Homo sapiens: one gene and its partners. The protein of the gene in region 1 interacts with the protein of each later gene in a pairwise test. Each region holds a gene or a part of one and is shown in the gene's direction. Other genes may lie near its edges. The genes, in order: NSG1, CACNA1C, SLC30A4 and TMEM207.

The links.
Region 2: the proteins of NSG1 (region 1) and CACNA1C interact in binary tests that used the Homo sapiens proteins (3 or more experiments, as listed by UniProt).
Region 3: the proteins of NSG1 (region 1) and SLC30A4 interact in binary tests that used the Homo sapiens proteins (3 or more experiments, as listed by UniProt).
Region 4: the proteins of NSG1 (region 1) and TMEM207 interact in binary tests that used the Homo sapiens proteins (3 or more experiments, as listed by UniProt).

Annotation. Positions count from the first base shown.
Region 1 is NC_000004.12:4,411,082-4,418,101, forward strand, and holds part of NSG1 (neuronal vesicle trafficking-associated protein 1), read left to right. Parts: intron 1-6,153; coding exon 6,154-6,354; 3' UTR 6,355-7,020.
Region 2 is NC_000012.12:2,048,638-2,055,993, forward strand, and holds the start of CACNA1C (voltage-dependent L-type calcium channel subunit alpha-1C), read left to right. Parts: upstream 1-4,349; 5' UTR 4,350-4,925; coding exon 4,926-4,974; intron 4,975-7,356. UniProt on the Homo sapiens protein: Pore-forming, alpha-1C subunit of the voltage-gated calcium channel that gives rise to L-type calcium currents. Mediates influx of calcium ions into the cytoplasm, and thereby triggers calcium release from the sarcoplasm.
Region 3 is NC_000015.10:45,519,753-45,527,635, reverse strand, and holds the start of SLC30A4 (probable proton-coupled zinc antiporter SLC30A4), read left to right. Parts: upstream 1-4,880; 5' UTR 4,881-5,029; exon of another isoform or gene 5,030-5,167; 5' UTR 5,168-5,281; coding exon 5,282-5,672; intron 5,673-7,883. UniProt on the Homo sapiens protein: Probable proton-coupled zinc ion antiporter mediating zinc import from cytoplasm potentially into the endocytic compartment. Controls zinc deposition in milk.
Region 4 is NC_000003.12:190,446,884-190,454,777, reverse strand, and holds the start of TMEM207 (transmembrane protein 207 precursor), read left to right. Parts: upstream 1-4,876; 5' UTR 4,877-4,968; coding exon 4,969-5,043; intron 5,044-6,950; coding exon 6,951-6,988; intron 6,989-7,894.

The DNA of each region.
Region 1 (7,020 bases):
CTGACCTCAGGTGATCCACCCACCTCGGCCTCCCAAAGTGCTGAGATTACAGGCGTGAGCCACCACACTCAGCCAATAAACTTTTAAAATGTAAGTTTTTGACTCTTTTGTAATAACACTTAGCTTAAAGCTCAAACATCTTGCACAACTGTATATTATTTTTCTACATGTGCTTTTTCTATTAAAAAATTTTTTAATTCTTTTTTTACTTCCAACACATTTTTGTTAAAGCTAAGGACACAGACACACACATTAGCTAGGCCTGCACAGGGTCAGGATCCACAGTATCACCGCCTTCTGCCTCCACACCCTGTCCCACTGGAAGGTCTTCAGGAGCAGTGACAGGCACAGGGCTGTCATCTCTTAGGATAACAATGCCAGGCCAGGTGCAGTGGCTCACGCCTGTAATCCCAGCACTTTGGGAGGCCTAGGTGGGTGGATCACCTGAGGTCAGGAGTTCAAGACCAGTCTGGCCAACATGGTGAAACACCGTCTCTACTAAAAATACAAAAATTAGCCAGGCATGGTGGCGGGTGCCTGTAATCCCAGCTACTCAGGAGGCTGAGGCAGGAGAATCGCTTGAACCCAGAAGGCGGAGGTTGCAGTGAGCTGAGATCATGCCACTGCACTCCAGCCTGGGCAACAGAGGGAGACTCCGTCTAAAAACAAAACAAAACAAAACAAAACAAAACAAAACAAAACAAAACAAAACATTGCCTTCTTCCAGAATCTCTCTTGGAGGAGCTCCCTGAAGCTCTTTTAGAGTTAACTTTTTTTTTTTAATAACTAGGCATGCACTCTAAAATACTGATTAAAAAGTATAGTACGGTAACATAAACAAGTAACATACGCGTTTATTGTCACTGTCAAGTATTATGTTCTGTATGTAATTGTATGTGCAAGACGTTTATACAGCTGACAGTGCAGGGGGTGTGTGTATACCAGCACCTCCGCAAAGTGAGGAGTGTGTTGTGTTCCGTCTACACGGTGGCTGCGAGGTCACCAGGCGACAGGAGGTTTCAGCTCCGTGACAGTCTTATGGGGCCACCATGGCATGTGGTCCATCGTTGACCCAAATGCTGTTATGCCGCGTGTGGCTGTAAAACGCACTTGCTGGTTCCCCACAGGGAGGAGGGGGTGGCTAAAACTGCCTTCCCTATCCTGCAAGCCCAAGTCCCGCTGGATACCTGGCCTGGGTGGGAGATGACCCAGGAGATGAAGCCCCAGTCCTGTGTCCGGCTGCAGATGAGACTGGCGGCCACAATGGAAGGGGCCTGGCACCTTTTGTTTAAAAGGCGCTCCAGGTGATTCCCATCCACAGCCAGCCTTGGGAATTGAGAGTCCCCTGATAAGTTGTTCTGGAGTGATGTCCTGTGGGACTTTGGCATTTTCCACTAGCATCTAATGAGGGGGTGTCCTTTCCGGAGAAGGCACCTAGGAAGGCCAGGGAGCTGCTGGTCTGTATCCAGCTGCCCTTGGCCAAAGCTGGAGAAAGGAGAGGCGTGAGCTCATGAAGTCCCCTTGACCTCCTCCCTCCATATTTGTGCGTGTGTTTGTCACACACCAACGCTAGGCAGCTTGTGTGGGGCTTTTACACCTGTTGCTCACGGAATCCATACACTCGGTAGCTGTGGGCTCCCGTTATCCATACACTCAGTAGCTGGCTCTGAACTTCCCAGAGTCAGTGTGAGATGCTCATCTCCAGGGCTTGGCACTGCTGAGATTAAAATAAAGCAGGAGAAGCCAACTGTTTCTAGCACTGAGCACGTGCACAGGGAAGCCTGGCTTGGCAGCTGTCACTGGGTAGCTTGGGTTTGGGTTTCATTTAGGTTTTGTTTTTTGCTGATATGAGGACGCAGAGAGTCCTTACGCGATTAGCAGGAAAGGCTGGAATTCACGTTGTCCAGCCCAAGTCCCTTTTTCTCCTTGCACATCATGCTGTCCTTCAGGCTCCCGACATTCAGCTCTTCCTCCCTTGGGCAGGCATGTACATGGCACCCACCCCGTGCCAGCAGCTCTTGCTATTGTTCTAGGCGCTGGAACACAGCCGAGAGCCAGTCAGGTACAGCCCCCTGCCTTCACGAGGCTCTTACATTCTCAAATGAACGGTGAGGAAGTCAGTCGTACACTGAATGTGAAGGCTATAGACAGACAGGAAAGAGGGCCCAGGGGTTGGGCATGGGCATGTGGGCGGTAGTTTCTAGAAGGATGGTCCACATTGGAGGAGCGGGTCTCCAGGAGGTGAGCCAGGGAGCTTGCGGGTCTTGGGGGAGTGTGCCCAGCCAAGGAAAGCCCCCACCCTTTCACTCATGTTTTATTCAGCAAGCCCCGTCCACGCCCTAGGCTGGGGCTGGGAGAGTTTGAGTCTGTTTTGGAGGCTGAGAGGACACCAGGGCTTTACAACAAGCAGAAGCGGAGGGTGCGGGCTTCAGGGAACGAGGGCAGTGCTGGCCCTGACCCAGTGGGAAGGGGTTTGTGATGGTAGAGGAGCACAGAGGGAGCAGCGGGCAGTGGGGACGTGCTGGTGGGGGTGTGCTGGTGGGGGGCTAGCCACAGGCACAGGGAGGCGGCAGAGGATGAACCAGCTTACGGCCAGAGCGGGTGCATCCTGAGTGCCAGGCACAGGCCCCTGGAGGAGGGGGAAGTGATAGGGTGACCTCTTGGGTCACCTGGGGAGGCTGGAGATTGGAAGGGAGAGACGGGGCAGTGAGATGACCAAGGAGACTGCTGCAGTGGCTGAGGGAAGAGAAGACTGGGGCGCTGGGGATGGAGGGGAGACTGCAGACTGGAGAACTGATTTAATCTGGGAGGCAGAGGGGTAAAAGGAAAGGGCCTGGTGCAGAGCTAGTTACTGAGGGAGGCCGATGTCATGGAGAGGGAGCACGGGCAGGCCCAGGAGCTGGCCCTGAGCCGGAGAGAGGACAGCAGAGGACAGCTTCCTGGGGGCCGGAAGTCCCCACCGAAACTGGCTACTTACAAATAACTGAGGCCAGTGGCTTCACCAGCTGCCCTGGAGCTTCCTTCCTGGCTCATCCTCTCTGAGCCTGGAGCAGGTTCCCCACAGGGAGGAGGGGGTGGCTAAAACTGCCTTCCCTATCCTGCAAGCCCAAGTCCCGCTGGATACCTGGCCTGGGTGGGAGATGACCCAGGAGATGAAGCCCCAGTCCTGTGTCCGGCTGCAGATGAGACTGGCGGCCACAATGGAAGGGGCCTGGCACCTTTTGTTTAAAAGGCGCTCCAGGTGATTCCCATCCACAGCCAGCCTTGGGAATTGAGAGTCCCCTGATAAGTTGTTCTGGAGTGATGTCCTGTGGGACTTTGGCATTTTCCACTAGCATCTAATGAGGGGGTGTCCTTTCCGGAGAAGGCACCTAGGAAGGCCAGGGAGCTGCTGGTCTGTATCCAGCTGCCCTTGGCCGAAGCTGGAGAAAGGAGAGGCATGAGCTCATGAAGTCCCCTTGACCTCTTCCCTCCATATTTGTGCGTGTGTTTGTCACACACCAACGCTAGGCAGCTTGTGTGGGACTTTTACACCTGTTGCTCACAGAATGCATCCAGAAGCCCTTTGAGGTGGATGCTGTTATATCCCCATTTTACCAGTGGTTAGAGGGTGTACAGAGGCTCTTCGTGGAGCCCAAGGTCACGCCCTTCAGTTCACTTGGTACAGTCAGCATGTACTAAGTACCTCCTACTATGTGCACACTGGACTCGACACCTTGAGGGCAGGGACCTCAGAGCCCCAGGCAGTGGGGAGGGGACAGGCTTTTTCTGGACAGCCACTCCCAGTGGCCCCAAGCTGAGGCATATCGTGAGGAGGGTGAAAAAGGCAGACGTGGCCCGAGAGGACACTAGGTTTCTACCTCTGCCTTTAAAAAAAAACAACAACAACATGAAATTACTACATGTTTTATAAAAAAGTTTTAAACATAATGGGGAAAGTGCCCCAAATCCCACATTTTTATACTGGCTTTTCCCTTTATATTGGCCATTCTTTTTTTTCATGTAGACAGGTTACACGTTCTTGCTATGTTGCCCAGGCTGGTCTCGAACTCTTGGGTTTGCTCAAGTGATCCACCCTCAGCCTCCCAAAGTGCTGGGATTATAGGCATGAGCCATCGCACCCGGACCTTAGTGGCTACTCTTTTCCAGTGCTGACTGAGTGCTGGGTGCTGGGAACACACTTACGTAGCTACCTCAGTCCTCCCGTGCCCCACAAGACAGGTCCGTCATCAGCTTCACTTCACAGGTGAGGGAATGAGGCCCAGAGAAGTTGGGGAACCTCCCCAAGCTCCTCCAAGTGCAGGCCCAGCTGAGTCACGCTCCCCTCAAGGCACACACCCCACAGGTGAGGGTGGCTCTGTATGAGATGGGTATGGGGGGCGGCAGGAGCCTCTCAGAAAGCCTTCCCTGGCCCATGTGGGCTCACGGCAAGGCCTCTGCATTCTGCTTCCGTTGGGAAGCCCTTCACCCCCTGGGGTGCTCGCCACCATGGGCACCAAGGTGCCTCCCCAGCCTTGCCTTTGGGCAGCCACGTTGTCTGGGAGGCATCTGGGGACTCCATCTGTCCTTCTCCCTGGGCGGGGCACCTGTAGGGCAGGGCCGTTTCTGAGCCATCTCGTATGCCAGCCCTGAGCGGGGCCGCCACTCCACAGGTGTTGGCCGCATCAGGTCTTGCAGGACTCTGCTGGGTGCCGAGGTGGGAGGGAAGAGGGGAACCCTTGGTCCGTTTCCCTGAGGGATGACGAGCAGCAGATGGAGAGGACAGCGTGAAGGGGCGTGGCGGTGAGGCTGGAGGGGAGTTTGTCTGGCCTGCAGAGCCTCCTTCCTGATGCACGCGCTGCTGGTCTGAATGGGCTGTTTGTTCTGTAGCGTGTCAGGTGCTTCCCGACGTCCTGGTGGGACTGAGATCAAGACGCTGTTGATAAAAGGGCTGTACTTCAGTGGTGTCTTTTGGCTTTCTTTTCTGTCCACACTGTGACCTGGGGCACATCCTGGCTTCTTTACTTGAGCCACTGTGCATTGACTTGAGTCCTCAGCAACACGGTGGTGTGACTCATTGGCCGCATTTTATAGGTGAGGGACCTGAGATTGAGAGAGAAAACACTCCGCACGTGAACTCAGCTGGTACGGTGGGCCTGGCTCCAAAGCTTCCCTTCTCCTGTAGCGCCGCCCTCCTGCCAGTGGCAGCCCCTGAACACTGGATGCGGGGCAGTGTTGGTGAGAAGCACATTCCATTTGTCATTTCTCTTTTGAAAATAGCTCTTTGTTCACAAGGGCCTTGCAGGTATAAAGTATTCTCATCTTTAGACTTCAGGGTTCAATGAGCTGGTAACAGAGAATGGATTCCCCATGGGGGCTGGGTGGCATCAGGAGCTGATCCCTGTACACCTGCCTTAAGCCCGTGGAGGTGAGCCACTCACCTCAAGGACAGGCTGCAGCCACAGCTGCCAAAACAGGGAAAACGCCCCCGGCCCTGCCTGAACCACAGGGCCTGGCCTGCAGGGAATGGGGGTGTGGATTTGCTGCCAGAATCCGCTTCCTGATAAACCTCTGTAAGACCCAAGTGCTGTCTCGCACTCCCCCAACCCACGGCCCCTCCCTACCCCCTCGCCATCTTCCCAGCCCCTAGTCATGACCACCTAGTGGCTCTGTGTGCCTCTTCTGACTCCCGCCCCAAGGCCCCTCTCTGCTCTGGTTTCCTTTGCCTTGAGTGCTGCCCCTCCCTCATCTCACCTAGCTAAGGTCTGCTGAGAACCTAGCTCAAGGGAAGCTCTTCTCACTTCCCTTCCGTCCTCATTTGAATTGGTTGTTTTGGGATATTTCATAAGTTGTTGTTTTCCAATTGATTAAAAATGACAACTAGTGCAAGATCTTCAGTGAAGTAAGGCCTGCTGTCCCATTACACTGGCACCCTTGGAGCCCAAGTGCCCATCTGCCATGGCACTCACCAGCCAGTCTATTAAGAATAATCAAGGCCAGGCTTCCCCTGTGCTGTGCTCTCTCAGGGCAAGATCCATGCCCGTTTTTGCTCATCACTGTATCTATTCCTCCAAGCTCAGGGAAGGTGCTCAGTAACTGTTGGCTGCCAACTGGAGACACACTGGCACCCCCTCTTGCACCGACGCGTGCTCTCAGTGGCCTCTTGTCTTTCAGAACACCCAGTGCATCCCAGAAGGCTTGGAGAGCTACTACGCGGAGCAAGACTCCAGTGCCCGGGAGAAATTTTACACAGTCATAAACCACTACAACCTGGCCAAGCAGAGCATCACGCGCTCCGTATCGCCCTGGATGTCAGTTCTGTCAGAAGAGAAGCTGTCCGAGCAGGAGACTGAAGCGGCTGAGAAGTCAGCTTAGCGGGATGGGCAAGTTCCTTACAATGTGTCACTTGCAAATAACAAAGGGACTTTGAGGGACATTTCATTAAATATAATTACTGATACTTTAGAGGTTACTCATTTACGGTGCAATTGCTTCTGTTTGCTAATGCTGCTTTGCAAATAAAACTTGCTGCCGACCACCCACGGGCATAAAATCAAGTGCATTTCAGCATTGCCTAAAGAGCTCTGACACCACTTTTCATGTTAAGATCTTCATTTAGCTCCTTTACTGGGATTTATTGGATGCTGTAAAAAAATAAATTTACACTGGATATGCGAAGGGTTTGGATCTCAGATAAATGCATTTTGTGGAATTGATTTTCTGAACCGACCCTGCTGTCTGCAAACCTTCCTCCATAGCCATATCTAGAGTGATCTCTCGCTGTGCTAAGAGCAAGCCTACTTCGCATTTCTTCCTCGGCCATCAGCGGGTAACAGTGCTGACTGCTGCCAAGGTGCACTGTAGTAAGTAAGTGGCATAGAGAACGAGGAAAAAGACCCCCCCACCCCTCCCTGTGCTGACTCCTGAGTCGGGGTGGGACGGCCCTGCAATGTGGCAGGCTCGGTGTGGATTGACTACTCCCTCCCCTCTGACTCTGGCATCTTGGTAAGGAGGGAGGGGCACCACCCATCTGGGTGGAGA
Region 2 (7,356 bases), on another chromosome or scaffold:
TTAGTGCTGAGTGGCTGTTGTGGTGGGCAGAGGGAGAGAAATAGAAGGGACACCTTGCAGACTTGATGGGAGACTTATTCTGAAGAGATTGATTAGCAGTGTTGTCCCTGGCTAGGCAGTGGGGGGAGGGCTCTGTGTCAAGAGGTGTGTGTGTGCTAAGGGAAGAGGAAGAGCCTGCTTGGCAACCTGGCTTTTCAAGCCTTGGACCAGACAGGGAAGAAGAAGAAGAAGAAGAAACATTTACGTGTAATCCCACCTCCCAAAGACAGCTACTGTCAACACTTTTTTTCCCCACCTGCCCCAGATTGAGGATACTGTCAACATTTTGGTGTGAACCCTATTTAGTCTTTTCCCTAGTTCAAATATAAACCTGACTTTAAAAGGAAAATGAAATCATAGTGCCTGTAATATTTTCGTGACTTGTTTTTCTTTTAATGTAAATCATCTTTTTCCACGTTACTAATATTCTTCCTTAATATTGTTCATGTCTATGTAGAATTTAACTGTATGAATGCACTCTAGTTCATCTATGCGGTGGTTAAGAGCGTAGGCTCTGAAGACTGCTAGGGTTCAAATCCCAGGTCTTTCAACATCAACTGGCTGTGAAACATGGGCAAGTGAGTAAACGTTTCTGTGCTTTGGTTTCCTCACCGGTAAAATGTGGATAAAAGCAATTCCTTCACAGGGTTGTTTGGAGGAGCAAATGACTTTATGTATGTGAGGCACTTAGAATAATCTCTCAGTGTTATTATTTAACCAACATTTTTGTTGAATATTTAGTTCATTTCCAGGTTTTCACTCTTACAAATATACTGTAATTAACAAATTCAGTGCACTCTTAATTGCTTCCAAAGAAAATATCTGTGGTCACATTTAAAAATCTTTTCCAGAGTGAATCATGCACTCAACACAAATTGAGTGTCCATATGTACAAGGCATTATGTTATGCACAAAGAATAAACACAGTTCTCTTCTTGAAGACACCTAAAATGTAGTAAGGAAGAGGAGAGAAAAAGGCTCATGCAAATATAAGCAAAATACTATGCAGAAAGAGGGCACACATGAAGACCTATGGGAGATTCTTTAGCTGGAGAATCAAATCATTCAATGACAGAGAAATGCAGACTCCCTCCTCTGCTCCCACCACCTCCCAAATCCCCAAATCGGAATTCACAATGGTCTCCTTTTGTCATGTTGAGAATTTGTTACCTCGAAAGAGCACACCCAGGGCTGTGTTCCAAAGTTAAAAGCTGGGATATGGGCGTATACTGCAAGACCAAATATTTAGGAAATACCTTTTTCTGGAAAGGAAAGAACACATTTCACAGCTGAAAAGAGAAGTGAAAAATGAAACTAAAGAAGCGTGGAGGTAATATTTACTTGCTAGATTTATACAGTGCCTACCTTTAGAAAAGCTGGGCTATAAATCCTGCACGTGACCCCCTAACACACATACACTCTGTTCCCAGTGACTTGGCTCTTTGTGAATTATCTGCAGCATATTTTGCAATCATTTCACCCTGTTCATCTCCCTGCAGCCCTGCCCCCACCAGCTCACCCACACTTCACCCCTCAGAAGAATGAGTAAGATAATAGTAGAGACTGAGTTTGGTGTCAGATATGCCTGGGCTAAGTCCAGGCTCCACATTTACTCAGCTGGGTGACCCTGGACATTGTAATTCAAGTCTCGAAGTCTCAGTTTCCATATCTGTAAAATGGGGATAATCATGACGATAACACATAGCTTATTGGATCGCAGTGAGGATTAAATAAGATAAAGGCTGTAAAGGGCCTATCACAGTACCTGGCACAGAGCACTCAGTAGTGTTAGCTATTATTATTATTCCTGCACTTGTGTGTAAAGGGGATGCAAACCAATTTTACTATTCATTTAAACAAATTATCAGCTACAGCAGCCTCTGAAACACAGGCCTATAATGCATCCTAAAGTAAATGCGAAATATTTGAATTTGTGTCATTTCTAATTTTCTCTATTAAGTTGAAAATTGAGTATGAACACACCAGAATGGCAAAGAGGCCAGATTTCTCTTGTAACCAACAAAATTGAGATCGCTATTAACATTAGAATGAAGATGACCGAAACAGCTTAATACTTCTCCCAGGGGCACTTGCATTTTACACTGGGGCCAGAACCACTGGACAAAGGAAGGAAACAGGAGTGGTAAGGTTTCAGGTACCAAGGGACGGACAGATGCATTTTCATAGGGGGAATTGCAACACTCCTGAAAGTATCTCAGGCACTCACTCATTTATTCAATACATATTATGTACTTACTATCTGCCAGATACTGCTCTAGGCACTGGTGAACAAAATAGATGAGACACCTGCCTTCATGGGGGTTACATTTTAGTGGGGGGATACAGACAATAAGCAATAAAGTTAATGAATAAGTAAACTATATAGTATGTTAGACAGGATTTCAGTAAGAGTAAGGGGAGATAGGGAGCGCTGTGGGGGTCTGTCAGTACTGAATCAGGATGAGGTCCTGGTGAGCCTCACTGAACAGGTGAGATTTGCGGAAAGCCTTGAAGAAGCCGAGGGAGTTTGTGTTTCAGGCAGTGGGAATAGCTAGAGCAAAGGCCTTACAATGTGCGTGTGTGTTGAGGGGTCATTCCTGGAGTGTCTGGGGCCCAGCCAGGAGGCTAGTGTATCCCGAGTGAGGGGGACAGCAGTAGGAGATGATGTAAGGGGATTTGTACTCAGCCATTCCTGTAGGTCACCACAAGGACCATGGCTTTTACTAAGTGAAATGGGTAACCATGGATGGTTTTGAGCAGAGGAGTGCTGGGATGTGATGTTTTAAATGGGTTACTCCGACTGCTGTATTGAGAAAATACCAGAGGGGAGAGGGAAGGTAGACCAGGGGGATCAGCCACAGGAGAAACCTGGGTGAAGGATGCTGGTTCAGCCCCAGGTGGTGGCAGTGCAGGAAATGAGAAGTGGTCAGGTTCTGAATTCACCTGAAGGTAGGGTCAACAGGATCTCCTGATGGACTAGACGTGGAATGATGAGAGAAAGGAGTCAAGAGTGACTCCAGGATTTTGAACTGAGCAACTAGAAGTATGGGATGGTCATCGACTGCGATGGGGAAGGCTGTGTGAGGAGGAGCAGGCTTTGAAGAGATCAGGAATCCAGTGTTTGGATGTATTAGGCTTGAAATGTCTATCAGACGGAGTCAGCTGTAGTCTGGAATTCAGGAGAGAGGTCTGGGCTGGAGATAGACATTTGATATAGACAGCTGCTGAAAGCCACGGGAATGGTTAGGGTCACCCAGGGAATGAGGGTGGATGTGGAGGCGAGGAGGTCTTATGTGGAGGCAGGTAGAGGTTTTCCCCAAGAGGGAGTTGTAGGCCCCCCTGAAAGGGATCACGAAGCCCCACTGGAGGGGAGCCCGGTCCTGCAGGGGGTGCCGTGGAACTTGCTGTGGTTGCAGGGAGTGATGGAGGGAAGTGTTTGCTTCTCCGGGAAGGAGAGGTGCTGGATAGATTCCTGCCGGAGTTGCAGAAATAATTAAGAGAAGTAGGTAAGGATATCCTAGTAGAACACGTGCTCGGCTGCCTCCAAGGAATTATTAAACCTGGGTCTAGGAATCTGTTCAGACATCTGGGCACCGCTGCCTCGCCTACCAGGCTCCGCCTCGCTGCCCCTCCCGCTTCCCCTCCCCTCCTCTATCTGTCACTTCTACAACCGCTCTGATTATAATTGATCAAACAGAATCACGGAATCACGGCTCATCTTGCCGTTTTGTTCAGTGGCCCGATCCGAAACGAGACTCTGGTAGTCGGGCAAATTGTATTCCTCCTCCTTGGAATTCCGCTCACAGAGGCCTTCCCGGCGTGGCCGGCCCAGCAGGGACGCGCCGCCGCAGCGGAGGAGAGAACGCGGGCGGGGGGCTGCAGGCCGGCGCGGGGGGCGCGACGCCGCCGGCGGGGCGCGAGGGGGTGTGTCCGCGCCGCGGCCACCGCGGCCACCGCGGCTGGCGCCCGGGTGCGCCGCGCGCCCCGGCCTCCCCGGGGGCTCCTCACGCCGCCCCTCGCCCGCCGGCGGCCGGGGCCCGCTCCCTTTGACGTCATGCGGGCGGAGGGCTCGCTCGGGCGGCGCTGCCGCGGGCGCCGGGAGGGGGCCCGACTTCGGGCTCCAGTCCGCCGCCGTGCGCCCCGCGCCGTGCGCCCGGCTCCCTGCGCGCCGCCGCAGCCACATCTGGAAGCGTTCAGCGCGTCTGCCTCCGGCGCGCCGGGCGGGCGGGCGGGCGGCGCGGGCAGGGGCGGGCGCGGGCGCGGCGGGGCTGGGCCGGGGGGAGTGAGCGCGGCGCTCTCGCGCGCCCGGTGTCTCCCTCTCGCTGCCTCTGCAGAAACAGCTCCTGCCAGAGCGGCGCTCGGCGCGGCGCGGCGGGCCCGGAGCGGCGGCGGCGGCTCTTCCTGCCTCCGCGCCCAGGAGTTGCCGGCTCCCTTTGACAGCAGAGAGCCGGGCAGGGGCCTCAGGAGGACTCGCTGGGAGTGGGCAGAGGCGCCTCGGCCCCTGCCGGCCCAGGCGGGCCCCGCGCGCCCCCCGCCCCTCCTCTCCGCCTCTTCTCGCCCTGCCTCTCCCGATTTATTTTTTCAAATGGTGTAGCCGCCGGAGGTGCGGTGCTCAGTTCTTGGAAGGGGCCCGGATGTACTGAGGATGCGTTACAGTTTCACTCGAGGAGGCAGTAGTGGAAAGGAGCAGTTTTTGGGGTTTGATGCCATAATGGGAATCAGGTAATCGTCGGCGGGGAAGAAGAAACGCTGCAGACCACGGCTTCCTCGAATCTTGCGCGAAAGCCGCCGGCCTCGGAGGAGGGATTAATCCAGACCCGCCGGGGGGTGTTTTCACATTTCTTCCTCTTCGTGGCTGCTCCTCCTATTAAAACCATTTTTGGTCCATGGTCAATGAGAATACGAGGATGTACATTCCAGAGGAAAACCACCAAGGTAAGGCTGGACCCCGCCGCCTCGCCGGGGCTCCCTGCCTTTTCCACCGGGTTCCTGCCCTACCCGCGCTCCCCGCGGCCCCGGGGCCGGTCCCTGCGGAGTGGCCCGGGGCCGCGTCCGCGAGGGGCGCCTCCGCCTCGTCGGAGCGCCCGGGAGCCCGGCGGGACCGGGGCCCGAACCGCCGCGCGAGACGGAGCGGAAAATTCCCGCCCCTCCCCCTCCGGGCCCCAGCTTCTCCAGAGCATGTGTTTCCTGTGAAATTCCAGGCGAGGGGGGAAAAGTTCCCCAAGTGGCTGCCGCCGCCTCGCTTTCTCGCGTCCGCCTGGAGAGCCCGGCTGCCTGGCCAGCCGCGCGGGGGGCAGAGGGCGCCGGCGCCGCGGAGCCCAGAGGCCCGGGGTCCCTCGCCCGGCTCGGGGCGCGGCTGGGAGCGCGCGCGCGCGCACCCTGCGCCGGCAGAGCCCGGCGCCCACGGCCGCCCCTGGGGCGCCCTCGCGCTGCCCGGCGTCCACTCTCGTCCAGGCGCCCCTGCCCTGGGCGGCGCGCTCCAGGTGGCGGGTGGGGGCGGCGGTGCAGATGTGAAGCCCAGCGCGCCCCTCTGGTTCCCCCTCTGTAGGTCCCCTTCTTCCTCTCTCCCTCCCTCCTCCGCCGCTCACCTACACCCACCCACCTCTCCACTGCTGTTGACCCCGAGCGCGCCCACGCCGCGTGTGTTCTCATTCGCACCCACATGTGGGCTAGCACCTGAGGATGGAAGCGGCGAGGAGCCGGGCGGTGTGTGGGCTTTGCTGTTTCGTGTTTGAAGGAGATCATGAAAGGGTGTGCCTGGCTCACGCGGCTCCATACTATTGCCCAGTGTTTTCCGAGCATCTCCATCCTTGGCCGCGAGTGTCACCAGCTCCCCCTGTGATGGTGAAAGGCAGTCAGGTAACTCCCTACTTCCTGGAAACTTTCTCCCTCACCGCTCTCCCCCCATATTAACAAGTTGTTTTCTTGGACGTTGCTTAGCATTTAAGGTTTTGGGGACGGGGGGTGCAGACAGGGTGGTCCAGCGGGGCTTTCTGGCAACCTCCAGGCATGACATCTCTTTCTTCTCGCCACTGCTCTGTCTCTTTGGGTGTAGTCTCTCCCTTTTCTCTCCCAGTTCCCAGAGCCTCCCTGTTTGCACTCTTCCTCTTCTCTTCCCCTGAAAGCCTATCTGTCACTGCTGGTCTCTGTTCCTTCCCTGGGTTCTTCCCAGTGATCCTCTGAAGACCAGCCTGGTGGAAGGAGTTGTCTCCAGGTCTTTTTGTCCAGCTTTTTCCCTCTGTTTGCTCCCAGCTCCACCTTTTGGGGACAGGGCCTTCACTCTTTAGAGCCAGAAGCTGCCATCCAGCCTGCCTGGTCTCCATCTATCCTGAAACCGATTTTGGGGCCAGTCTTCTCTGCTTTCCAGCATGGGTGGCAGCTTGGGGATTGTGGCCTCCTTTGGAAGAAAGAATCTTGTCAAGGGTCATGGGTTCTAGGGTGAGCCAGAGCTTTGGGGTCACAAGGGCAGTATCCATGTTTGGATTTCTCTACTGTTGACCCCATCCCTCACCTGATCCCCTCTCCCTTCTGTAGCTGATGGGCTAGTGAATGGTTTAGGAGGGAAGGAGTGAGACACAAAAGAGGGTGGTATTTGTGAAGAGTGGGGATGCAAGATGACTCCCCTCCAGGTTCTGAGACTGCGTGCTTTACCCACCTCCTCAGTCTAAGCAGCATTGAAGAGGAGAGCTCTGTAGTATTGCCCTAAGTATCACTGTCAATGGCAATGTACTGTGGTAATAATAGTGATTATTCACCTTATTCACAGGATGATAATCTTAACTAGTTTACAAGGTCTCCTCTTAGTGCAGGATAAACCCCTTCTGAACCCATTTCCTTACTCTGGTTGTTTTCTTTGGCCCCTTTGCCTCTCAGCATCTCCCTGCTGTATGCTGGGAGCAGACATTAAAAGTAGGAGTGCCAACCCCAGAGAGGTTCCTGAGAAAGGTAGAGGGGAAGGGAGCAAGGGAGCCAGCGGCTGAGAGCTCTACCTTTCCAGCAACATGCCAGCAAACGCTATGGCAACCTGAATTCCAGTTCTCTCCCTTGAAGCTGCAGTGATTATATAATTCATGGGAGCAGTTTTGCCTCCATTTCTAGATGCGGTTCCCAGGTGGAAGAGCACCAAGATCCCTGTCTCCCCTCTACTCTCCATCTTCTCTTCTTTAGTTGGTTGGCATTGCCGAGGTTGTTGGGGTAGGAGAGGGGAGGAGGGTGGTGGAGGTGGGAAGGGCAGACCTAGAACAGAATGAATATTGACAAGGAAGAGGTTGCTGTGGCTAATCACTAAAGGGGGCGGGTGAGCCATCATAGGGGTTA
Region 3 (7,883 bases), on another chromosome or scaffold:
TAGGTTTAAATCAGAAGCTACTACAGAATTTAAATATTGGCTGGGCATGGTGGCTCACACCTGTAATCCCAGCACTTACAGGAGGTTGAGGCAGGAGGATCACTTAAGCCCAGGAGTTCAAGGCCTGCCTGGGCAACATGGCAAAAAACCATCTCTACAAGGAAAAAAATACAAAAATTAGCCGGGCATGATGACAAGCACCTATGGTCCCAGCTAGTCAAAAGGCTGAGGCAGGAGGATAGATTAAGCCCAGGAGGTCAAGGCTGCAGTGAGCCGAGATCGCACCGCTGCGCTCCAGCCTTGGCAACAGAACGAGACCCTGTCTCAAAAAAACAAAAAACAAAAAAGCCACAATTATTTCTTCTTCCTCTTTTTTTGGTTTTGTTTTGTTTTGATTTTTAAAGATGGGGTCTCCCTCTATTACCCAGGCTGGAGTACACTGGCACAATCATAGCTCACTGCAACCGCCAATTCCTTGGAGGCTTTAAAAAAATTTTTTGGAGAGACGGGGTCTCAATATGTTGCCCATGCTGGTCTTAAACTTCTGACCTCAAGAGATCCTCTCCCCTTGGCTTCCCAAAGTGTTGAGATTACAGGTATGAGCTACTGCATCTGGCTGTTTTTTGTTTTTTTTGTGAAACAGACCCAATAGCCAAAAGGACACCTCTATAGGCACACCTTGTTTTATTGTGCTTCACTTTCTCGCACTTGTTAGATATTGCCAGTTTTGCAAATTGAAGGTTTATGGCAACCCTGTGTCAAGCAAATCTGTCGCCGTCATTTTTCCAATAGCCTGGGCTCACTTCATGTCTCTGTGTCACCTTTTGGTAATTCTCTTAATATTTCAAACCTTGTCATTATTATTATATCTGATATACTGATCTGTGATCAGTGATCTTTGATATTACTATTGTAATTATTTGGGGACATCACGAACCTTGTCCATATAAGATGACAAACTTAACTGATAAATGTTGTATATGTTTTGACTGCTCCATTGACCAGCCGTCCCCCTTCACTCTCCCTCTCCTTGGCCCTCCCTATTACGAGACACAATATTAAAATTGGGCCAGTTAATAACCCTACAATGACCTCTAAGTGTTTAAGTGAAAGGAAGAGTTGTATATCTCTCACTTTAAATCAAAAGCTAGAAATTATTAACCATAGTGAGAAAGGCATATGGAAAGCTGAGATAAGGATGGGCATGGTGGCTCACGCCTATAATCCTAACACTCTGGGAGGCTGAGGTGGGAGAATTGCCTGAGCCTGAGCAGTAGAGGTTTCAGTGAGCCATGATTGTGCCTGTGCACTCCAAAAAAAGGAAAGAAGGAAGGAAGGACGAAAAGAAGGAAGGAAGAAAGGAAGGAAGGAAGGAGGGAGGGAGGCAGGCAAGGAAGGAAGGAAGGGGAAAGGAGGAGGGAAGGGGAAGGAAGGAAGGGGAAAGGAGGGGGGAAGGGGAAGGAAGGAAGGGGAAAGGAGGGGGGAAGGGGAAGGAAGGAAGGGGAAAGGAGGGGGGAAGGGAAGGGAGGGAAGGGAAGGAAGGAAAGAAAAAAGAAAGAAAGCTGAGATAGGCTGAAAGCTATGCCTCTTCTTTTTTTTTTTTTTTTTTTGAGACGGAGTCTTGCTCTGTCGTCTAGGCTGGAGTGTAATGGTGCGAGGCTCACTGCAACCTCCGCTTCCCAGCTTCAAGCGATTCTCCTGCCTCAGCCTCCCAAGCAGCTGGGAGCTACTCGGCACATGCCACCACACCCAGCTAATTTTTGTATTTTTAGTAGAGACAGGGTTGTCTCTACTATGGTAGAGGTCCACCATGTTGACCAGGCTGGTGTCGAACTCCTGACCTCAGGTGATCCGCCTGCCTCAGGCTTCCAAAGTGTTGGGATTACAGGCGTGAGCCACCATGCCCTGCACTATGCCTTTTCTTACCCAGGTTGTGAATGCAAATGAAAAGTTCTTTTTTATTGTTTGGGTTTGTTTGTTTGTTTGTATTAAACTTTTATCACTTGACTCTGGGAAATGGGAAGGTTCTTGAAGGAAATTAGAAATACCCAGACCAGCCTGGGCAACATAGTGAGACCCTGTCTCTATTTAAAAATAAATAAATTAAATAATTTTTTTAACAAAAAAGAAAAGTTTGAAGCTAGCAGAGGTCGGTTCATGAGATTTAAGGAAAAAAGCAATCTCCATAACATAAAAGTGCAAGAAGCAGCAGCAAATGCTGATGGAGAAACTGCAACAAGTTGTCCACAAGGTGTAGCTAAGATCATTAAAGGTGACTACAATAAACAACAGATTTTCAATACAGGGGAAACAGCCTTCTATTGGAAGATTCCACCTAGGGCTTTCATAGTTAGACAGAAGTTGATGCCTGGCTTCAAAGCTTCAAAGGACAATCTTACTCTCTTGTTAGAGGCTAATGCAGCCCGTAGCTTTAAGTTAAGGCCAATGCTCATTTACCATTCCGAAAATTCTAGGGCCCGTAGGAATTATTCTAAATCTACTCTACCTGTGCTCTATAAATGGAACAAAACCTGGGTGACTGGCCGGGCGCGGTGGCTCATGCCTGTAATCCCAGCATTTTGGAAGGTCGACCCAGGTGGATCACCTGAGGTCGGGAGTTCGAGACTAGTCTGGCCAACATGGTGAAACCCCATCTCTACTAAAGATACGAAATTAGCCAGGCGTGGTGGCACATGCCTGTAATCCCAGCTACTTGGGAGGCTGAGGGAGGAGAATAGTTTGAAATCGGGAGGCAGAGGTTACGGTGAGCCGATATCGCGCCATTGCACTCCAGCCTGGGCAACAAGAGTGAAACACCATCTAAAAATAAAAATAAATGAATAAAAAAGAAGAAATACCTTTCATAAGGCTATAGCTGCCATTGATTCCTCTGATGGACCTAGGTAAAGTAAATTGAAAAACTTCTGGAGAGGATTCAGCATTCCAGATGCCATTAAGAACATTCGTGATTCATGGGAGGTCAAAATATCAATATTAACAGGATTTTGGAAGAAGTGGATTCTAACCCTAATGGATGATTTTGAGGGATTCAAGACTTCAATGGAGGAAGTAACTGTAGATGTGGTGGAAATAGCAAGAGAACTAGAAGTGGAACCTGAAGATGTGACTGAATTGCTGCAATCTCATAAAATTTGAACAGATGAGGAGTTGCTTCTTATAGATAAGCAGAGAGAGTGGTTTCTTGAGATAGAATCTACTCCTTGTGAAGATGCTGTGAACACTGTTGAAATGGCAACAAAGGATTTGAATATTCCATAAACTTAGTTGATAAAGCAGAGGCAGGGTTTGAGAAAACTGGATTGACTCCAATTTTGAAAGGTCCACTGTGGGTAAAATATTATCAACCAGCATCACACGCCATCAAGAACTCTTTCATGAAAACAAGTCAATCAATATAGCAAATGTCATTGTTGTCTTATTTTAAGGAATTGCCACAGCCACCCCAACCTTCAGCAGCCACCATCCAGATCAGTCAGCAGCCATTAACAAGGAGCAAAGACCCTCCAACTAGCAAAGAATATGACTTGCTAAAGGCCTAGATGATTGATAGCTTTTTTTTTTTTTGAGACCGAGTTTTGCTCTTCTTGCCCAGGCTGGAGTGTAATGGCGTGATCTCGGCTCACCACAACCTTCGCCACCCGGGTTCAAGCGATTCTCCTGCCTCAGCCTCCCTAGTAGCTGGGATTACAGGCATGCGCCACCATGCCCAGCTAATTTTGTATTTTTAGTAGAGACAGGGTTTCTCCATTTTGGTCAGGCTGGTCTTGAACTCCCCATCTCAGGTGATCCGCCCGCCTCGGCTTCCCAAAGGGCCGGTATTACAGGCGTGAGCCACCACGCCCAGCTGATAGCATTTTTTTAGCAGTCATGTATTTTATTTACTTGTTTATTTTTAGAGACAAGGTCTCACTCTGTCGCCAGGCAGGGGTGCGGAGGCACAATCATAGCTCACTGTAATCTCGAACCTCTGGGCTCATGCGACCCTCCTTCCTCAGAGCAATTAACAAATGTATATATACTTTTTCCTTCCTCTCTCCCAATATTTTAAATTAAGGTATGCACATTGTTTTAGACATAACGCTATTACACGCTTAATAGACTACATTATAAACATGATTGTATTTGCACTGGGACATGAAACATTTGTGAGACCTCACTTTGTCATATTGCGGTGGTCTGGAACCAAATTCGCAGTATCTCCAAGGTATGCCTGTACTAGATTTTCTATGCTTGAGTTTAGTCCATATCGTAAATACCTTGGAGGCAAAAGGAACACGGCAGAGAGCACAAAGAGGACAATACATATTTGCTGAAAAACAGTAGGACACAGAACTGCTGACGACGACAGCCTTGCCCTCTCCAGTTGACTGCAGCAAATGTTGCCAATTTGCCAGAGACAAGCAATTCGAGGAGAGAAAAGCTGCTTGCCTTTTCAGTTAGCAAGAAAAGTGCTGGGTTTGTCTTCTGCCGAGCACCCGCAACCCAGATCCCGACCCGAGATTCCTGAGACACACTTTCGGTGGAGGGAACTCCTAGCAGCAACGCCCAGCCCCCGGCGTGACCCTCCGACCGCACTTGCCTCCCAGCCTGGGAAGGTGGAAGAGGCCGCCCAAAGTCCCCTCAGTTGGCCAGTGAGTGACCCCTGGGCGGAGGCGGCGCAGTGGCCCCCAATCCAGCCTCGGGGCGAGAGGCGGGGCGCGCCGCGCGCCCCCGCCCATCGCGGGCGCCCCAGCCCTGCGCGCCAGGCCTGCGTGTCCTCGCGCCGACCCCTCCCTCGCGCGCCTCGCCCGGCGCACGCGCGTGGCCTCGCGCAGGGCGGGGAGAGGCGGTGGCTGTGGGCGTCCGGCCCCGAACCTGTCAGACCTGGGGAGCCGGCCTCCAGCAGCGGGCGCGGCGGGCGCGAGCACGACCCCACTCTCCTGCGGCCGCGGGTGGAGCAGCGCGAGCCCGCCTCGCTGAGCCGGCCGGGGGCGGGGAGATGAGTTGCGGCCCCGCGGCAGCGCCCCAGGTATTAAATAGATGTGCCGCCCCCTCGCGGAGCCCCGGCGGAGCGTCGGGGTCGGCCCTGCGACCCGCCGCCAGCGGCTTCGGAACTTGAGGACAGGGTTGGGCGCCTTTAATTTATAACGTGTTTCGTTTTCCACAGGATGGGGAGGGACGCGCGGCACTGCCCTCGAGAACTGGCGCTCCGGTGAAGTAGGCGCCGCCGGCCGTCCGCCTCCCCCAAGCCGTTCCGCACCGCGGCCGCTCAGCCTCTGCCATGGCCGGCTCTGGCGCGTGGAAGCGCCTCAAATCTATGCTAAGGAAGGATGATGCGCCGCTGTTTTTAAATGACACCAGCGCCTTTGACTTCTCGGATGAGGCGGGGGACGAGGGGCTTTCTCGGTTCAACAAACTTCGAGTTGTGGTGGCCGATGACGGTTCCGAAGCCCCGGAAAGGCCTGTTAACGGGGCGCACCCGACCCTCCAGGCCGACGATGATTCCTTACTGGACCAAGACTTACCTTTGACCAACAGTCAGCTGAGTTTGAAGGTGGACTCCTGTGACAACTGCAGCAAACAGAGAGAGATACTGAAGCAGAGAAAGGTGAAAGCCAGGTTGACCATTGCTGCCGTTCTGTACTTGCTTTTCATGATTGGAGAACTTGTAGGTGAGTTGTGTTGCCAACTCACTTTCCGTTTACCTTTCCTCGAGAGTCTTTGTCAAGCTGTAGTTACACAGGCTTTGAGGTTTAACCCATCTTTTCAGGAAGTTTGTATTTATCAAGACACTGATCTCATGTGAAAAGGCCACACGGTTCCAAAGTGCAGCTCAATCTAAGTACAATATAAACTCCCCGAGATAACTTTGACTTTCTCTTCTAGTTGTTCAACCACTGTCATCTACCGTAAAGTTAAGGACGTTATCTTCATTGTATGTCATGTAACTTCCTCTTTTTACAAAGGTCTGGTAAAATACCAGGTTAATTTTCGCAACGTTTAAAATAGTAAATGATCGTAAATAACTTAAGATCATAGAATTTTACAGTATGAAGGGACCTTACTGAACACCTGCTCCACCTCCTTTTTTTTTTTACATGTAAGGATTTCCAGGGCACAAACCAGTGGAATAAGTCGTGAGGGCCACTTAGGGAGTTAATGGAAGAGCCACATCTACAGTCCCAGCATTTTTTTCCTCTACATTTGACCTAAGTGGTTTCTTTTATACGATTTCCTTTTGTATTTATAGCCAAGAGATTTGCAAAATTAATTACCAACTAACATGAAATTTTTGCCTCGTAAGAAGGGCCTGAAATGAACCAGAGGACTCCGCCAAAGTTCTATGAGCCTGGTTTTCTTGTTCATTTTTTAATTATACGAACAATCCGTTCTCAATATAAGATACATTCTTAGTTTAGAGGTTATTTTCAATCACGTCAGTATAACTACTAACTTCTCAGTGACAGTTTACAAAGTGACATAAAAGCAGGGAGATGATTCTTACATGTCATCTCTTAAATGATGAACCATGACAAAAACAGGTGGCAGTCCAGATTTAAGATGTTTGACTGGAGGGTTCTATGTGGGAAAAATTATATACATTTCCTACCTTCTTTCATAACACTCCTCCCCAGGGCTCGCTTCAGCCATGCTGGTCTTCTTTTTCCTCTTACAACTCACAAAGCTCTTTTTGCCTCTAAGGCGTTCAAAGTGGCTGGTCCTTCTATCTCAGTGGCTTTCAAACATTTTTTGACCTCACTGTAGTAAGAAATACACTTCACATTGTGACTCATTTAGGCATGCATGCATACATATGTATGAGAATATACACAGGTCACATGTGTATAAATATATGTATAACTGAAACAAAAGTTTTCCTTCATGTGATGTATCCTAATAGTTTCTTCAATTGTGGTCCCAGCTCACTAAATGGATTTCGTGTGTCCACTGCAGTAGGTCAGGGCCTTAGCTTGAAAAACACTGCTTTACATAGACTGCCTTTCCCAAATCTTTTCTTGGCCAGTTTCTTGTCATTCGTGTCTTATTTAAAAAGACACCCCGGCCGGGTGCAGTGGCTCACGCCTTTAATCCCAGCACTTTGGGAGGCCGAGGTGGGTGGATCACCTGAGGTCAGGAGTTTGAGACCACCCTGGCCAACATGGTGAAACCTTGTCTCTACTAAAAACAAAATACAAAAATTAGCCGGACGTTGTGGTGGGCGCCTGTAATCCCAGCTACTTGGGAGGCTAAAGCAGGAGAATCGCTTGAACCCGGGAGGCGGAAGTTGTGGTGAGCCGAGATTGCGCCACTGCACTCCAGCCTGGGCAACAGGGTGAGAATCCGTCTCAAAAAAAAATAAGTAAATAAAATAATAAATAAATAAATAAGTAATAAAAATTAAAAAAACCCACACTTTTGAGAGACCTTTTCTGACTGACTAAAGTAAATCTCTTTTGTTCCCTGTTCCCTCTCCAACTTTCAAAGTCCTCAGCATCTGAGATATCTTATTTATTTACTCATTTAATATTACCTGTTTCCACTGAAATACAGGCTGAATTCCTAGCACCTAGAACAGTGACTGGCACAAAGTAGATACTCAATAAACTTGTTGAATTAATTCATTTTTATTCTGTTAGATAATTATAAATGCTTGAGCTGTAAAGAAATTAAAAGACAGGAGACAACCTGTGCCCCAGATAAAGCACCATGGTCTCAGCAGACTGAGATTCGGTGACTTGCCCAAACTAACACAACTAGAATATTGAGTCATTCAGGTTTAATGATTTTTGAAGTTAACGTTGAATATTTGAAGTTAAAATAACAATCACAGCATCCCCCCTTAAAATGATTAATAATTCAGAGTTTATTTCACCTAAGTAAAA
Region 4 (7,894 bases), on another chromosome or scaffold:
AGGAGAATCACTTGAACCTGGAAGGTGGAGGTTGCAGTGAGCCAAGATTATACCACTGCATTCTCCAGCCTGGGTGACAGAGGGAGACTCTGTCTCAAAAAAAAAAAAATCATTCCAGTTGCTATATTGAGGGTATATTGCAGATGGGCAAGTGGAAAAACAGAAGTACCTGCTAAGAACCTACTGGCAGTAATTTTGGTAACATATGAAGGTGGTTGGTGAGTAAGTTAGGTAAAAAGTTGTTAGTCAAGGTAGTAGAAAGTGCTGGGGGTCTGTATATATTTTGAAATTTGAGACTACAGGATTTACTGATACATTAGGTATGGCATATGAAAGAGAGAACTAAAAAATATTTATAAGATTTTTGGTCTGAAAAAACAAAAAGAAAAGGCTTTAACTTACTGATCTAGGAAATATTTGGAGAAAACACAAAGGATAGAGAAGAGATAAGCAAAATGAGAAGCTAGGTTTGGGTTAAGTTTACTTTGCAGAAGTCTAATATATCCAATGATGATATGGACATTATGTGACATGTGATGTTTTCCTCAGCTGCCATCACAACAATCTCCTCCCCAGCCAACTGAGAGTCTCCGCTCAACTCCGTCTGTTCTAGGCACACTCTGCCTTCTTGCTTTTCCACACACTTCCCAGGCATTCTTCTGTCTCAGGGAGCTTTGCATTTGATCTTTCCTTTGTCTGAAATGCACCTCCCACATTTTCCACGTGGCTTACTTCCTCACTTCCTTAAGGTCATTGCTGAAATGCCACATTCTCAGTAATGTTTTCCTCAGCTGCTATATTAAATATCGTAACAATCTCCTCCCCAGCCAACTGACATGGAGTTGACAGTTAATCTCATGAGTTCAGGGGAAATATCTGGATTGAAGATACAAATCTCAGAGTTGTCACTTTATGGATGATAATCTGTAAAACTGACTGAGATTCTTGAGAAAGTGGATATATACAGAAGAGAAAGAGGTCTGAGAACTGAGTCTTAGGGAATTCCTAACATGGCAGGTCTAGAGAATTGAATAGAAATGGTCAGCAAACTGGGAGGCAAATCAAAAACGATATCATTCTGGAAGCCAAGTGAGGAAGGTAAAGGAGCAAGAAGTGATTAACTGTGTCAAATGTTGTCCATTACTTAAAGTAAGATGACTAAAAGTTCACCATGGATTTGGCAATGTAATCAATATTTCCTTTCACTAGGGAGAAGAAGCAAATGGAGAAACTAGAGACTCCGACAGCTTGCTGCCTCATTTTATGTCCTCCTTATATTACTTCAACTCCTATTGTTTCCATGGATCTCTGAATTAATTTTGAAATTCTCGTTTATTTTATTGTATTTTGTTGTGTTTTATGCTCCAGTAATCAACATCTTACATCTGTGCTATATCTGATTTCATGTTGATATTTTCAATGTGATCTTTAATGAAATTATTAGAGAAAGATAATTCAATATTATTATCATTATTTTAGAAAATGCAGTTTTTATAAATAACTGTTTATTGTCATACTGCTGATTATTAGTGACCAAGGCTTCCTAACTCCTAGAACCTTAACTTGTGCCTTTAATTTTGATAAAGAGAGTAGCTGGTGATCCCTTGCTTGCTCTTTGGACCTTCCTTTATGCATGCCCACTTTTATTCATACCTTTTATTTATTCTCGCTTAATTCCTTGAATTTTGGTCCTCAATCCTTTCGAAGAGCTGCATGCCATGACCTTTAAAGACAAATATTGATATGACTTCAGAGCTTCAGGGAATTTTGACTTATGTCAGGCTCCAAATCCAGAGGATAGTTTTCATATTTCCTGAACTCCAGCCATTTCGGAAGGATTAATCTCTTCTCACAAAGAAAAGAGATAGGTGAATAACCAGAATTGTGAAGTTGAATATATGTGTGTCCATTCTTTTGTAACAAAGATGTAGATAAAAGGTCCACCATCCAAGTACTGGGTGAATTTTATACACTATCACAGTGCATGTCCTCTTTCTTCTTCTACAGATTCTTTTCAAGTTTTGCCTACTTCTATTTTTATAATCAAACATAAAAAGTCCCTAGAATCTTAGTGATCTAAGAGACCATATTGCTATGTATAGCAGTCAACCATCTTCAGCTTGACTTTCCAGTGATGACAATTCACTACCACAAGTTCATGCACATAAGGATGTAGTTGGACTTACAAAATTGATCACACATTTTAAGTGATAAAATATCACATGTACCCTATAAATATGAACGACTGTTATGTACATATAAATTTTTTTAAAATCATGCCGATGGTGGATTGCCTCCATGTCAATTTTCTGGTTGTGATAATGTATAACAGTTATGTAAGATGCTACCACTGGGGTAAGCTAAATGAAGAGTATATGGGATCTCTGTAGTAGTTCTTAAGACTGCCTGTGAATTTAAATTTATCACAAAATAAGCTATTTTAATTTTAAGTATCTATTAAAAAAATTTTGCAGGTAAAATTGCACTCATGGTCAGATTTTGTATTCCACAACCACCAAACTCTCATGATGCTAGGAAGGAAATGTACTAGAAAAACTACTGTCTTAGAAACTGTTATGCTGGACGTTGGAAGTGGCATGGGAAAGTCACAGAAGTAAATGGATAAATGGCAAGGTGGAAATGAATATAAATTTTGATTTTAGCACCAAATATAATTGCTGTGTTTGCATTACTATTGTGACTATAGACTCCATCTCCATTCAGCTGCCATACTCCTAATCAGGCAGCTGCTGCAGAATCATGCATTTTTTTTGACAATAATTACTTAATCCATGTATGTAGTTGGTCATTATTGCAGTTTCTGAGGCAAAACCAAATATGCTGCCCTTATTTCCATTCTGTCTCTTCTCTAGTCATCTGGCCTCTTCCTTTCCCAGAAATTCTTAAGATCATTGACTCCACCGACGGAAGTCAGGCTTCTGACTGCCTAATAAATAAGTTCACCAGTGAAAAGCCTATTTTTCATTCTGTTTAATTACAGGCTTCAGAGACACTCAAAATGGAGCGTATCTGGGGGATAAATAATACTGTAGGTTTGGTTTACTTTTCTCCTATTGGCATTGGCACCAAGCCTTCCTCTGCTTTGAAATTCATGGCTGCGACCGTGGCTGCATACTAAACAGAGCGTAGTCACCACACAGACGGCTTCACCCATCCAGATGCAGCTCAACTAGTCCATATACCGCGATGGCCAACTCTGTGCAGTAGTTTAGATACCTAATACTGCTGGTTTGTTTCTAGAGCAATCTATGTGTGTGATTGTAAATGGGTTCATACATTACAATTTGAATTGGATGTGGTGAACTACACTGGAGCTTGAATTACGATATTCTCATTCTGCATTGTGGATCATTGCCTTCAAAATTGGCTCTTAGAAGTGAATATATGTAAAAAATAATTAGATGACATATAGACATTGTAAAAAATATCAAAAATACAAGGAAGTAACAGTGAAAAGTAAATTTCCTTCCCACTCTGGTCTTCTTAGTTTGCAATTTCCCTTTCACAGAGCAACCACTGTTAGCAGTTTCATGCAGAGACATCCTATGCATATATAAGTATATATGCATAAGTTTTGTGTACGGAGAGAATACTATAGCTCTACCTTCCTATTTTTGCATACAAATGTGACATGATGTACACAAAGTTCTGTGATTTTTGTTCCTTTTATTCAATAACTATTACAGACCTCTCTATATCAGCATCTGTGATCTGTCTCCACCTTTTAAAACAGATTCCTAGTATTCTGTTGAATTTATATAACCATTTTGTACTTAGTCTGTCACATTTTCATGAATATTTGCTGTTTCCAATATTTTGTTAACACCAACAATGCTTCGATGAACATCATTGCATATAGTAATTTGTGCCATGTGTAAGGGGTACATTCATGTATCTTGCAAGGAGAATTCTTGCTCTAAGGGCATATTTATTTTTTATGTTGATGTATATTGCCTACTTGTTTTCCAAATAAGCTGTACAGTTTTCCCAACCGTATATGAGAGTATTTGTTTCCCAGTATTTATCCCTCTTCCCTATATTATCAATTTTTTGAACTTGCCAATCTGATTATAATTCTAAGGTATGTTTATCTAATTATGACTGAGGTTAAGCATCTTAACAATCATTTGTTACATTCTTTCCACATAACCATTTAGCTCTTCATTATACCCTGAAAGATATCCATCTTCTCTCCACTAGTTTCAAATGGAAGCTTAAATAAATTTGTTTATTTGAGTCTAAACTCTCCATTTCTAAACTCTCTACTCTTTTACATTTACCTTATTATTTACACATATCAGTACTAATTTTTGTAAAATGCATAGATTAAGACATCTTAATGTACAATAGGTTAGTGCCTTTTCTTTTTCTCAGAATTTCCCTAGATATTCTTGCTTTATTTTTCAGTGGTAGTGATGGAGTTGTTTCATAAAATAAACATTGAAATATACCTTGTTTAAAAGAGGGGTATTATCACAATAAAACAAGGAAAGCTTTATGCCTAAGTTTGGGTTAGACCTGGAACTGAAAATGGTGTGTAGGAGAACAAAGAGTACCAACAAAGGGAAGAAAATTGAATAAATGTTCCAAATATGAAATACTATTAGAAACCCAGAAGTTCCCTGGAATAAAACATGCACTTGAATGTGGAAAGTTATTAAGTAGCCAGCTAGCTCTGTAGGTCAGCATTTATAACCCCTACTTTTAAAGGCCTTGACAAACAGTGCTAAAGTTCTCACCTTAAACTTAAATTCCTTGGGCTCTTAGTACCTGTAAACATGTACCCAACATTCCTTCCCCTAGCATGCACTTTACGAGTCACAAGGAGCCATTATTAATGCATGTCCTGGTAGGAAGCATAACTTATAGAGAAGCTAGTAAGTTCTGAGAAAGAAGGAAATAAACACAGGCACCAAACCACTATCCTAAGTTGACTGTCCTTTAAATATGTCAAGATCCAGACTTTTCAGTGTCACCTCAGCGATCTCAACGATAGGGATCTTGTGTTTGCCGCTATTCCAGGTAACTATCTCTCTTTCTGGGTTAAGGTTTTCAGAGGTACTCTGAGGTACTCTGAGGACTTGATTTGCTATAGATTTATATGTGAGCAACTTAACTGCTTCTACATTTAAAAGATTTCCTTCAAGCTTTACTAGCATCTTATGATTTCTTGTATTCACTGGTCAGAGGGACAAAACAAAATGTCCAAGGCATTAGTCTTATTTCTCCTTCAATTAGTTCTATTGCTACTGAAATAACGTGATTGCAAATTTAACCTTTGTTTAACTTTGCTATGCTGTAATTTTTTAAATTCAAAATGCTATTGACACAGAACAAAATGCTATGGCTAGATTAATTTAAGACATGTTTACTATTGCCTACAACCATACTTGATGCTTGACAGTTTTTCAATGCTGACTGATGTAGACAGAACCATTTTAGGATTTATTTCAGTTCCTCTGCTCCAGCATCCCCTTCTGACTAACACGTGCATCTCTAGATCTGTGTGACTTCAATGCAAGGTATCTGAAAGATTTAGATCTAAAGTAAATTATAGCTTTCCTTACCTCTTCATAATAACTGGAAGTTTGACAGCTAATGTGTTGGCAGTGAGGTGCTAATAATTTAATACTGTGTACTATTGCTAGGGTACAACACACAGAAAAAACACGGAAGTGACTTGAAAGTGAAATACTGGTTTTATTTGTTTATCTGTTAAGCTGGATCCCAAACGATTTCATCTACTCATAAATAAACTTTCTTTATGGACAAAATGTGAATGTTCATTTTCCTTTCACTTAGTATGCAAATCTATTTGCAGCATTCTAGCAAAAAAGAATGCAACTCATTTTCTGTGCTTATAAATTGTTCATTACCATGCTCTCTGATGGCCAATTCATGGCTCCATCTGCAACTCCACAAATCTCTTTGCCCAGATAAACTTGGTGGAGTAAATACAAGGTGCTGAAGAAGATGCTTTTGGGATTAAGGGGGGAAAAGACACATCTCACACAGAACTCCCAAGTCTATCACTTTAAATTTTGTAACTTCTTACTTGTACTTTTATTTGCGTGTTATAGTCCAGGAAAATAAATACTTCAACTGACTTCATCAACTAAGTGTTCAGAGCTACACATAAATGCCGTTTAAAGACTTTCTCCTTGTACAAGGAAGGAGTCCTGGTTCAAAGGGTCAAGCAAGCAAATAGATAATAAGATCTTTAGAAAGAAGTGCCTTTTTCCTTGTGATTTAGTATATGAGATGTTGTAACCTATGACACTCAGTGCAGATAACTAAGAGCATTATTTTAGAATGCTTATAGTATTGGACTTTTCAAACAAAGCAACAAAGATGATTACTTTTTTTCTCTTCTCTGATAAAGAGAAGACTGTAAATCTCAACTGGAATGTCATGTGATCTTAAATGGACCTTACCCTTAGAGCAGGTTAAAGTCGCCCTTTCATGAATATATATTTAATGCCCATTAATGCTAATAGGCTTGACTTCTGTTTCCATGTATGTACTTGGAACTTGTTTTTTTTTGCGTGAAAATAATACTCACTAATAATGAACCTCTGACCTCTAGCTACAACATGAAAACAAAAAATGCAAAGTGCACAAAAGCTCTTTAGAGCAAGCAAAATCTGCATATAGAAAAAACAAAAATTGTCGTAAAATCCATTTATATTGGTATGTAGAAATGGAATCTGGTTCACAATATATATCTTCTGCCACTGCTGAGCTTAAGAATCCACCCAGAGATTTTTTCAATTAAAATTCTGTGTACCAACAATAAACTCTGCTATAGAGCTTTTAATTAAAAAAGCAAACGAAATGATATAAACCCACATTGTCTCTAGGCGCTGCTTGTATTAAAGGATTAGACTGATGAGATGTTTGGATTTTATTGTTCTAAACATGTGTTTCAGTTGGTGCTCTCGGACCTACCATGCGAAGAAGATGAAATGTAAGTAAACAGCGAAAAACTCCATGTTTTTATTTCGCATTTAAAAAATTCAAAGTATAAAAAAGGCTCAAGCCATTAGAAAAAGCCCAGTTGAGTTTCAAATGATCATTATAATCAGAAGAAAAGTAAATGGTTTGTAAATGCAGATGGCTCCATTTTTTTTTCTGAAAACAGGAAAGATAATTTTCATTACGATCAGCTTTGTTAAATAAATAAGAGGCCTAGTTGATTTCTAGATATTTTTGCACACTGAATTTATCTTCCTTAAGGTTTCAAGGGTACTTTAAGTTCATAAAAGAATCATGATGTCATCTATGGCTTCATCCACACTCAAAAATCACAGTGACCAAGGGAGGCAGTTTTCTGTATAACTCAGTTTAAAATACAAGCAAACTGACCAAAATTCTAACCTGTACTGTGTGTCTATTTCAAAGTGCTTGTGATATGAATTATGTGAACAATTGACTCAATTTTTTCACTTTTTGTGCGATAGACTTAATGGTTCTCAGAATTCTATTCAGGAGATGAAGAGAAGGTGCCATTAATAATGATACTGATAATTAATATCTGTAATTCATTGTGATTTAGTATCAGAAAAGCACTTCCACCCAGCACTATCTTCTCCTGCTTGCAGCCCTTACTGTTAGCAGCTGTTTTCAGTCTTCATTGCCTGTTACACTCAAAGCCATGCTCTCTGTATAGCAGGAGGCTATGACTGTATTTCACAGCAGAAATTGGGACCATTCACCTGCTTCTGGTGGATCTTCTTATTGTTAACAATCTGCTTATTAAATTTGTGCTGCTCTTTCAGCTTTTGCATGGCTCTCGATTGCTATTTCTTTACGTTAATTTTGGAACTGCTTTTTCACTCTGTCTTATGCTGTTTGTGATGTAACAGAGTATTTG